Homo sapiens: one gene and its partners. The protein of the gene in region 3 purifies or fractionates together with the protein of the main gene of each other region. This does not show direct contact. Each region holds a gene or a part of one and is shown on either strand. Other genes may lie near its edges.

What was found.
Region 1: the proteins of FBXL4 (region 3) and ATG9B purify together in Homo sapiens (affinity purification with mass spectrometry; 2 studies listed by BioGRID and IntAct, with this or other methods). This does not show direct contact.
Region 2: the proteins of FBXL4 (region 3) and CRAT purify together in Homo sapiens (affinity purification with mass spectrometry; 2 studies listed by BioGRID and IntAct, with this or other methods). This does not show direct contact.

What each region holds. Positions count from the first base shown.
Region 1 is NC_000007.14:151,022,358-151,026,106, forward strand, and holds the start of ATG9B (autophagy-related protein 9B), read right to left. Parts: upstream 2,138-3,749; 5' UTR 2,067-2,137; coding exon 1,517-2,066; intron 1,374-1,516; coding exon 1,330-1,373; intron 1,153-1,329; coding exon 1,088-1,152; intron 850-1,087; coding exon 688-849; intron 1-687. UniProt on the Homo sapiens protein: Phospholipid scramblase involved in autophagy by mediating autophagosomal membrane expansion. Cycles between the preautophagosomal structure/phagophore assembly site (PAS) and the cytoplasmic vesicle pool and supplies membrane for the growing autophagosome.
Region 2 is NC_000009.12:129,097,526-129,100,924, forward strand, and holds part of CRAT (carnitine O-acetyltransferase), read right to left. Parts: intron 3,165-3,399; coding exon 2,986-3,164; intron 2,442-2,985; coding exon 2,341-2,441; intron 1,126-2,340; coding exon 1,006-1,125; intron 847-1,005; coding exon 724-846; intron 624-723; coding exon 488-623; intron 1-487. UniProt on the Homo sapiens protein: Catalyzes the reversible transfer of acyl groups from carnitine to coenzyme A (CoA) and regulates the acyl-CoA/CoA ratio. Also plays a crucial role in the transport of fatty acids for beta-oxidation.
Region 3 is NC_000006.12:98,927,329-98,930,977, forward strand, and holds part of FBXL4 (F-box/LRR-repeat protein 4), read right to left. Parts: intron 495-3,649; 5' UTR 377-494; intron 1-376. UniProt on the Homo sapiens protein: Substrate-recognition component of the mitochondria-localized SCF-FBXL4 ubiquitin E3 ligase complex that plays a role in the restriction of mitophagy by controlling the degradation of BNIP3 and NIX mitophagy receptors.

The DNA of each region.
Region 1 (3,749 bases), on a different chromosome or scaffold from region 3:
ACTTCTGGCTTCAAGCAATCCTCCTGCCTCAGCCTCCCAAAGTGCTGGGATTACAGGTGTGAACCACTATGCCCGGCCTAATTTTAATTTTTTATAAGGTAAAATGTGGATAGATACGACTCCCATAAACAAAAGCTTTTCAGGATTCTCAACCAATTTTAAGTGTATTAAGATACACTTAATGCACTGTAATTAAGATACACTTAAAAGGCCGGGCACAGTGGCTCACACCTGTAATCCCAGCACTTTGGGAGGCCAAAGTGGGTGGATCACCTGAGGCCAGGAGTTCCAGACCAGCCTGGCCAACATGGTGAAACCCTGTCTCTACTAAAAATACACGTGGTGGTGCACGCCTATAATCCCAGCTACTGGGGAGGCTGAGGCAGGAGAATTGCTTGAACCTGGGAGGTGGAGGTTGCAGTGAGCCAAGACCTCACCATTGCACTCCAGCCTGAGCAACAAGAGTGAAACTCTGTCTTAAAAAAAAAAAAAGATATACTTAATACACTTTAAGTACAACTTAATACACTTAAGTACAACTTAAAGTATATTAAGTGTATTTTTGGTCCTAAGACCAAAAGCTTTGAGAACTGCTGATCTAGATGACGGGACAAAGTGGGGCTCCCGTCTACTCCTCTACCCACTGCCCATGCTTCACCCCCAGGGCCCCACCAGGTTGTCACTAACCTCTCAGCACACTGGGCTGAGGGTAGGATGGCATCTGACAGGGTCACTTTGCTGTGGAACGGCCCAGGTCTGGTATGGTTACTTGGTTGGTTGGCAAAGAGAACATTGTAATCCACGCATCGAAGGAGGAAGGTTGTGAAGGTGACAATGAAAATAAATTGTCTGCCGGGAGGAAGGGGGGGTGCCGGGATGCTGCAGTGATCAGGGACAGCCAGGTGGGCTCCTGCCCCAGCCCCCAGAGCAGCCCATGGTTATCCTCCCTGACCCTGCCCCTGCTGAGCCCTTGGGCTGCTCGGGAAAGCATGGGATGGAAGCAGCTGGCACAATTAAGGAAGCAAAATGACAGAAGGAAGCCATGGGCCCAGGGGACCGAGTTCCGGGCCCGGGCTAAGCGTCTCACCCCAGCTGGAAGACATCCTCCAGCAAGATGCAGGCAAAGCCATTCCGCTGGTGGTAGCTGTAGATGTGGCTGCGTGTCAAGGAACAAGCCTGAGGCACGGGGGGCCTCTCCTGAGGACACCTCCCCTCAGCCCCAACAAGTCTCCCACCCATGACGCCCTCACGGAGTCTCCCTGCCAAGAACAGTGCCAGCTCCAAGAGGACCTTCCCATGCCACCTCTGCAGGCCTAGCGCAAAGGATATCTTGGTGAAGAAACTGTCCAGGTTCTGGATGTGATGCCAGGAGCCTGGGCACAGAGGGGAGAGTGTCAGCCCCTGGCATGTGATCAATTCTCCACGTTCTCAACCCGCTGCCAGAGGCCCAGCCTGGGATAAGTACTGGAGCTCCCAGGCACCACTAACCCTCTCCCACCCACACCCACACACATACCTCGGAGCCCTTCAGGGACATGAAGCAGGGGTTGCTGCTCCTCCCCGTGGATGGGTGAGTCTTGGGACCCCTCAGGGTCACAGTCCTCCAGCCGCTCATAATCCTGTTCAGGGATCAAAGGGCCTACCCGCAGCCCAGGAGAGTCCTGGGGGCACTGCTGTGAGGGAGTGGGGGTTGCCGGGGCCAGGGGTGGGGTGGAGTGGGATCCCCAGGAGGGAGATGCAGAGGCAGGTGTCATTGCAGGTTGAGCCTGTGTTGGGGGGGTGGCTGGGATAGGGAGAGCACTGTGGCAAGACTGAGAAGCCCCTGTCCCCTGTAGCACTGAGCAAGGGGGCCCTGCGGTGGGAGGGGAAAATGAGGAGGGGGAGCTTCTTGTATGAGGGGCAGGGGACAGAGAGAAGATGGAGATCCTCCCTCCCCCAGGTCCCCGGCATGAAGGAGGAGGAGGAGGTGGCAGTGGCATGGGGAGGAGGGGCACCGATCCGGGCCCCAGATCTCCCCACCGCCCCAGCCGCCTTCTTCTCCCCCCCCAGCCCATTCGGCTCACCATCAGGCCACGGCTTCTCCAGAAAGGTTGGAAGGATGGGAGCTGTTGTTGCTTCCACAAAGGTCTGTGACACTGAGCTGGGACTTCAACAGGAACAATGACAACAACATTACTAGGTGACTCAGCCTAGGCAGGCCTCAGGCGTCCCAGCTCTCAGTCACCTGTCTGATCACTCACACCCCTTCCAGGGCAACCTGAGGCCAAATCCCTCAGGGCCTGAGAGGGGCATCAGTTTAAGAGGAGGGGCCAAAGAGCACATTGAGATGAGAAGATTCCTATTATCTCCATCTTCAGACCTTGAATGAATGAAAGATAAAAAGAACAGCAGCCAAAATGACAAAAGCAAAAAGCAAAATCGTGTTAGAGCCAGGTGTGGTGATGTGTGCTTGTGTTCCTAGCTACTCAAGAGACTGAGGTGGGAGGATGGCTTGGTGCAGGTTACACTGGAACAGTATAGGTTACAGTGAGCTAGATCCTGCCCCCTGCCACCCCCCCCAAAAACATCCTATTAAAGGATTGTAGCAGGGCGCAGTACCTCACACTTGTAATCAATCTCAGCACTTTGGGAAGCCGAGGAAAGAGGATTGCTTGAGGCCAGGAGTTCAAGACCAGCCTGGGGAACAGAATGAGAAGACTCCATCTCTACAACAAATCTTAGGACCAAGATGTTAACTATTTCATTTCTTAAGAGTGTACCTCCCCCACTTCCCTCCACACACACACTACAGTGATCAACAGAGAAATGTTTTGTGACCAAAACAGAAAAGAAGAAGTAAAGGGGCCAGGCATGTTGGCTTACACCCGTAATCCCAGGACTTTGGGAGGCCCGGGCGAGAGGATCACTTGAGGCCAGGAGTTCGAGACCAGCCTGAGCAACTTAGGGAAACACCATCTCTACAAAATCTAAAAAACAAACAAAATAATTTTTTTTCTTTTTGAGGCAGTCTCACTCTGTCACCCAGACTGGAGTATAGTGGCACAATCTCGGCTCACTGCAACCTCCGCCTCCCAAGTTCAAGTGATTCTTCTGCTTCAGCCTCCTGAGTAGCTGAGACTACAGGTGTGTGCCACCACACCCAGCTAATTTTTTGTATTTTTAGTAGAGATGGGGTTTCACCATGTTGGCCAGGCTGGTCTTGAACTCCTGACCTCGTGATCCACCCGCCTTGGCCTCCCAAAGTGCTGGCATTACAGGCGTGAGCCACTGCGCCTGGTCAAAAATAAATTTTTTAAAAAGAATAAGAAAAGGTTGCATGTTTTATTGGTCTGAGGTGCTAAGGAAGAGAAGAGGGGAGGCTGACTTTGCAGCCAAGTTGGGGAAAACTAAGAAGAGGAGGTGAAGAAAGGAAAGGCAGCTATCTTGGATTTGAGAGTTGGTTTGGAGAACTTAGAGTAGAAAATTGGGGTTCTCTGAAAGTTCCATTCCGTTTGCATCCTTATCATTTTCAACTGTGACATTCTCTCAAGTCCGGATCCCACTTCTGGGACCCCCTGAAAAGCATCAGGGCTGAATCAGAAGGGAGGACAGCTGTGAGTCTGGGACTTGGAAGGATAATTTGGATACCCAGGGAGGAGCTGAACTGAGTTCCTTGTTGTCACCTCAACAAGGAGGAGGAGACCCAGGCAGCTGGTCTGGTGGCTTGCCCAACGCCATTCTTGAGGCCCTGAATCACCAGGTTTCCTTCT
Region 2 (3,399 bases), on a different chromosome or scaffold from region 3:
TGGTGAAATCCCGTTTCTACTAAAAATACAAAAATTAGCCGGGCATGGTGGCAGGCACCTGTAGTCCCAGCTACTTGGGAGGCTGAGGCAGGAGGATTGCTTGAACCCGGGAGGTGGAGGTTGCAGTGAGTCGAGATCACACCACTGCACTCCAGCCTGGGCAACAGAGTGAGACTCTTTCTAAAAAAAAACAAGAAAAAAAAAGAGCGAGTATTGCAACTACCAACTCCTTGGTCCTCAGCCAGGGCCTGACATAGGGCAGTTGCTTACTGCCAATGAATAAATGAATGAACAAATGAATGACTCCCTTTTCCTCTTTGGTCCCCAGGAAGCTCAGAGCTAGATTCACGGCTCCAGCTTCTGTTAGATTCCCCGTGCCCACCATGGGGCTGGAATCCTGTAGGTGCTCAATTATTGTGTGTTGACTGAGTGAGCAGGAGGGAGGGGCTCAGGCCCAGCTCACCCACCCTCGCCCCAGACCTCTCACCGTGACGCTGGAGTCATCCATGGCCTTGACAAAGGTGAGTGAGTCCATGGAAGCCGAGCGGATGGTGTCGGTGCGGCCCAGGTGAAACATGCGCAGGGAGGCACTTTCATAGGTGGCACATGCCTGTCCGTAGATCCTGGTGGGAAATGGGGCTAAGCACGCCCCTTGGAGGCGGGCACCCCCTCCCCTGCCCCCAGGTCTCCTCCCTCCTCCATGGGTGGGCCACAGAGGCGCACCTGTAGTAGGCCAGCTGCAAAGCCATCTGGATGAAGGCATCTGGGCTTAGCTTCTCCGACTTGGGGAAGTCTTTTCCAAAATGGTGGAACACCATCACGGTGATATCCAGGTCCTGGATCATGCTGGGGGTGTGGGAAGAGCAGGTGAGGAGCAGGCCCCGGCAGCCCCTGCCAACCCCACGGAGGGTCTGGGTGTCATGACAGAGCTGGCACAGGAGCCTCTCAAGCTCAAGGGCCTGGCCTCACCCATCCAGCACAGGGATGGCGGGGGCAGGCACTTACATGCTGAGGTTCTGCTTGGCCTTCTCGATGTCGCTCTTGATCTCGGGGGTGATGTTGAACCGCAGCTTCTTGGGCATGGGCAGGGGCACCAGGGGAGACCGCACAAGCTCGGGTTTCTTCCTGCACAGTAAACGGGGCCTCAGGCTCATGCTGGTGCCTCTAGAGCCTGGGTCCATTCTGGGACCAGGGTGGGGAGGATGGGTACCTGAAGCTGGAGGGGGCCAGCCCAGGGAGGTGTGAGTTTGTTCTGAAAACCACCCTCACTTCAGCTTTTTTTTCTTTTTTCTTTTTTTTTTTTTTTTAGATGGAGTCTTGCTCTGTTGCCCAGGCTGGAGTGCAGTGATGTGATCTCAGCTCACTGCAACCTTGGCCTCCCTGGTTCAAGCGATTCTCCTGCCTCAGCCTCCTGAGTAGCTGGGATTACAGATGCCCGCCACCTTGGCTAATTTTTTTCTTTTTCTTTTGAGACAGAGTCTTGCTCTGTCACCCAGGCTGGAGCAATGGAACGATCTCGGCTCACTGCAACCTCCACCTCCTGGGTTCAAGTGATTCTTGTGCCTTAGCCTCTTGAGTAGCTGGGATTACAGGCACCCACCACCACGCGTGGCTAACTTTTTTTTTTTTTTTTTTGAAACAGAGTCTCATTCTGTCACCCAGGCTAGAGTGCAATGGTGTGATCTCAGCTCACTGCAACCTCTGCCTCCCGGGTTCAAGCGATTCTCCTGCCTCAGCCTCCCAAGTAGCTGGGATTACAGGCACCCGCCATCATGCCTGGCTAATTTTTGTAGAGACAGGGTTTCACCATGTTGGCCAGGCTGGTCTTGAACTCCTGACCTCAGGTGATCCGCCTCCCAAAGTGCTGGGATTATAGGCATGAGCCACTGCACCTGGCCTAATTTTTTTTTTTTTTTTTTGAGACAGAGTCTTGCTCTGTCACCCAGGCTGGAGTGCAGTGGCACAGTCTCCGCTCAACGCAACCTCTGCCTCCTGGGTTCAAGCAATTCTCCTGCCTCAGCCTCCTGAGTAACTGGGATTATAGGCATGTGATACCACACCTGGGTAATTTTTTTTTTTTTTGTATTTTTAGTAGAGATGGCATTTCACCATGTTGGCCAGGCTGATCTCAAACTCCTGACCTCAATTGATCCTCCCACCTCAGCCTCCCAAAGTGTCAGGATTACAGGCGTGAGCCACCATATCTGGCTGGCTTCCTTGGAAAAAAACAGATTCCCAGGCACAAAGGAGAGTGATATTTCTCTATAAGCTGGTCTATCACCTGTGTGTCACCTGTCACTAGAAGCTGGGGAACTAGGCGAGAGATGTGACTGTACTCACGTGTACTCGATGACATAGTCCAGAAGGGTGACAATAGGGGGCCCCTCCGCTGCAGCATGCTCGTACACAAGCCCACAGGAGCCATCTTCTGCCACGATGAACTGTGGAAGGGAAGGGAGACCCCGGTCAGCCCCAGGGCCCTGGGGGGTGGCCCCTCACCCAACCACTCTTTGGTTGAGGCAAGGGCCTCTCTGAAGCCATCTCAAGGGGCTATGATGACTTATTACTGTTATTAACAATAGCTGACACTCACCAGGTGCCCTGGTGTGCTAAGCACATCCCACGCTCAGCGTGCCTGACTGAGTCCTTCAAACTACTCTACCGGTGAGGTTGACCATCACCCCATTTTACAGGTGTGGAGAGGGACTGTTGTGCCAGGATTGCACTGGTGACCCCGGATCCCAGGTTCTCTGTGAGGTGCTGAGGGGGTGTGCTGGGGGTGACAGCGGTTTCCAGGCCAGAGGCAGGACTGGTGATGACAGGCTGGCTGCCTGGTAATTACGGCAGCGTCCAGCCTGCTGGCTTCCTGCCTGCTTTACAAGCTAGGAGGCTGGGGACGCAGGGCCGGGGACGGGCAGGAAGTCCCGAGGCTGCAGAGGTCCTGTTCAGGTGTGTGTGAGTGGGCGAAGCCCTGCCGGGCCTCACCTGCAGCGTCTTGTCGAACCAGCGGTTGCCGCTGTTGAGCCTGCTGCCGCCCCCATGCAGCATCTGGCCTGCCACGTGGCTGCGGTACACGTCTTCTGAGACCCTGGGCATGGTTGCATCTAGGCACACGGTGAAGATGCTCTTCTGGATGGAGCGCACGGAATCCCGGTTCACCTTGTCTGCAGGTGGCATGGGGCGGGGAGACGCAAAATGGGGTCTCATGGTGTGGGAGAGATGGACCAGCCCCTCCGCAGCCTCCTGCCCTGGGCTCTTCTGACCCATTTGTACCTCTCTGGGATGAGGAGACCCCCCACCTCGCCGGCCCTCCAGGGCATTCACCAAGTGCAGGGTGTGGGTTCAGAGCTTCGAACTCAACAGGACCCTGCAGGCCCACAGCACTCCTCGAGGCAGGGC
Region 3 (3,649 bases):
ACAAAATTATAACCATCACTCAAGAAATACTAAGTCTTTGAATCTGAAAATTAAAATTATTTAAATTATATGGTGAACCACTAAAATACTGCTGTAAATTCAAAATAATCTTAGACATTGCTGTAATTTTACATGTTAACAAAAATTCCCTACTGTTAATTATTACTCTCTTTCAAACATACAGAATTCAGATTTCACATTATGGGAATATAGTTCTTTGGTGCTGACAGTTAATCCAGATGAACTACATTAACTGCCTTACACATCACAGATCACAGATCAGTGTTTAATTTATAACTCCTAGCATTATTTGTTAGGGCAGTCCATGGCTGGCTGGCATCTGGTTTGTTGCCAGCTACTCTTAGAAATCACTCACCCCAGATAGAATGGTCACAGGATACACATGGGAAATGCAAAAGTTGGCATTCATCCAGGTACCCTGAACTTTGCATGCTGACTTCAGGTACAAATGCTGACATGTGACATTCTTTTACCTGTAAGAAAAGAGTTTTGGAAAATATTTTTATGTCCAAGTCACAAAGTCAAAATATCCAAAATTATAAATAGCCACTTATTCAACCCTTCAAATCAAACAGGCCACATTTTTCTATTTTGTACACAATTTTAAATAATGTATTTTTTAAATGTTATGATAGAATATAATAAAGATTTAATAATGAACGCTATCTATAAAGAGGTTGCAAACTCACAGCTTTTGTTTCAAACTATGTTTGTATACATATTTCACTGAGGCCAAACAGTGTTTTTTAAAAATTTGATCTAGTTTGTAACCTTTAACAATCAACAAGATCCCAAGAGGCATGAGCTCTCTCAGTGGCCACTCTCGTTCCCAGCCAGCTCCACTCATTTACAACATAGGCTGGGGCCCATCCTCATTGAGTAGGTAAACTTTTGTTGACAACAAGGAACTATAAAACAAACTTATTTTTGTACCTGTAAAGTCTTGAGTTTAACTTCTAAGAAGGGAGATGTACCAACTTTTCTTTTTTTTTTTTCGAGACAGGGTGTCTCTCTTGCCGCCCAGGCTGGAGTGCCCTGGCGCAATCTCGGCTCACTGTAACCTCTGCCTCCTGGTTTCAAGCGATTCTCATGCCTCATCCTCCTGAGTAGCTGGGACTACAGGCATACACCATCATGCCCAGCTAATTTTTTGTAGTTTTAGTAGAAACAGGGTTTCACCATGTTAGCAAGGCTGATCTCGAACTCCTGACCTCAGGTGATCTGCCTGCCTCGGCCTCCCAAAGTGCTGGGATTACAGGTGTAAGCCACCACGCCCTGCCCCAACTTTTCTTTAATAGAGCAATGCACTAGTCTTCCAAAACTTCAGCACTAAGATTATAAAACATTATTTGCACTAAATGTCCCTTCCACTGAAAAACCTCCAATGCCTTTTTCTTATCTGCAAGATATAATCTAAATTATTTGGTTTGGTATTTTAAGGCTCTCTTCAAGCTGGACCAATCTCTTCTTGTCTAACCCAGCAAACCCAATCAAGTTCTAACCACTCTTCGTATTTTACGTTAAGTCTCGCTTCCTCTATCATTTCTTTTCCAACCACTTTTTTCCACATCAGTAGCCTTACTTTCTGATACCTACTGGCACTGCATTTTTATGAGATATATACCTTAGTTCCACTAGGGTTTATATTAGGAATAAGTCTCTTGAAGGAGGGAATCTAGCCAAAGATCTTTATTTCTCAAAGTACACAGTACATAATAGGCACAAAATATTTGACATGTTGATAGGTGATGAGCAAATTAAAAATTATAAAAATCTAAAATAATTTTAAATTGTATAACAGCATCCTTTTGCCTCTCAAACCCAAACAGATCCAAACACAATGAAATATTTAAAAATATAAGCACTGAAACACTACTTAAATAACTGAACTTGAAAGAAGTGCAGAGAATCCACAGTAGTAAGAAACTAAGAAGAAAGTTAGCTGGGCATGGTGGCTCACGCCTGTAATCCCAGCACTTTGGGAGGCTGAGGCAGGTGGATCACCTGAGGTCAGGAGTTTGAAACCAGCTTGACCAACACAGAGAAACCCCGTCTCTACTAAAAATATAAAATTAGCCAGGCATGGTGGCACATGACTGTAATCCCAGCTACTCGGGAGAGTGAGGCAGGAGAATCGCTTGAATCCAAGAGGTGGAGATTGCAGTGAGCCAAGATCATGCCATTGCACTCCAGCCTGGGCAACAAGAGAAAAACTCCGTCTCAAAAAAAAAAAAAAAAGAAAGAAAGAAAGTCAATGAGCAGAAAAAAGAAAGTCAATGAACAGAGGTCAGGGGCTGAAGCTAACATGACTCATGGAACCAGTTACAGGCCATAATGGTTACAAGGGGACTCCCTAACACCCATTCAGAGACGTTATTTAAAGACACAGGTCACAGTTGGAAGGACCTTCATAAAGTCAAAACTCTGAAAGGATCACCCTATCCATGAAACCAGGACTATAAAAACTTAGCTTACTGGCCAGGAAACCCAAGTAGGCATGACATCAACTAAGGCAATGGGGGGAAAGTCACCAGAGGAAATCAGAACCATATGAGGCATGAACCATGCATAGAGTGTGGGCCTAAATTCACACAACCTTCATGGTTTAGAATCCCACCCTATCCTCATGCCAAAAACTGAAAAAAGAAAAGTAGTCCTGAACTGGTAAAACTTTAGGACCTGGTAAGAGCAAATGTGAAAACTCTTTGCAGGAATGCTTCCAAAACATACAACAGACTAAACCTTTACTAATGATGCATCACAGTAAAAAGTTACAGACCAGAATAGAAAATGAACCATGATGAGAGATAGTCAGTGGACTCACCAAATGGAGGGATTTGCAGCACAAGAACAAGAAATAACAGAATAACCAGAATAAGACTTTTTCCAAAGAAGGGCAACAAAGCATATATTAAAATAAATAGGCTGGGCATGATGGCTCACACCTGTAATCCCAGCACTTTGGGAGGCCCAGGTGGGAGAATCACTTGAGCCCGCCGGGGCGGAAGTTGCAGTGAGCCGAGATTGCACCACTGCACTCCAGCCTGGGTGACAGAGCCAGACCCTGTCTCAAACAAACAAATAAATAAATAAGGTGTTTCTGTAACACACACTTAATGGATGTGCTCATGAGTCAATGAACCAGATTCACCTCAGGACATATAATAGCAAGTACTGAAGTATGTCATGTTATAATTGGGGGAAAAATAACTACCTGTTATATTACTTCTTTATTCAAACATTTCACCTACCACAAGTATAAATTTGTCAAATTAAAAAATATATATATTTAAGGCTGAGGCTGGAGGATAACTTGAGCTCAGAAGTTCAAGGCTGAAGTGAGTCATGATCGTGTCACTGTACTCCAGCCTGGACCACAGAGCAAGACCCCGTCTCAAAAACAGACAGACAACTTTTTGCCATTCAAGTCTCAATCCTTAACAAAAAAAATTGAAATGGTACAAATCTTTCTTTTACCATATACACTTTATTTCAAAATAGGGCTGCAGATAAATTAAGAACCATTTTCCAAAGAAGTTGACTATTCTCTTTTCAAAAAGAAAAAGAATTAACAAGTTAAACTGCAAAAATAAAATTTAGGAAATAAAGAACAACCTATAACATGTAT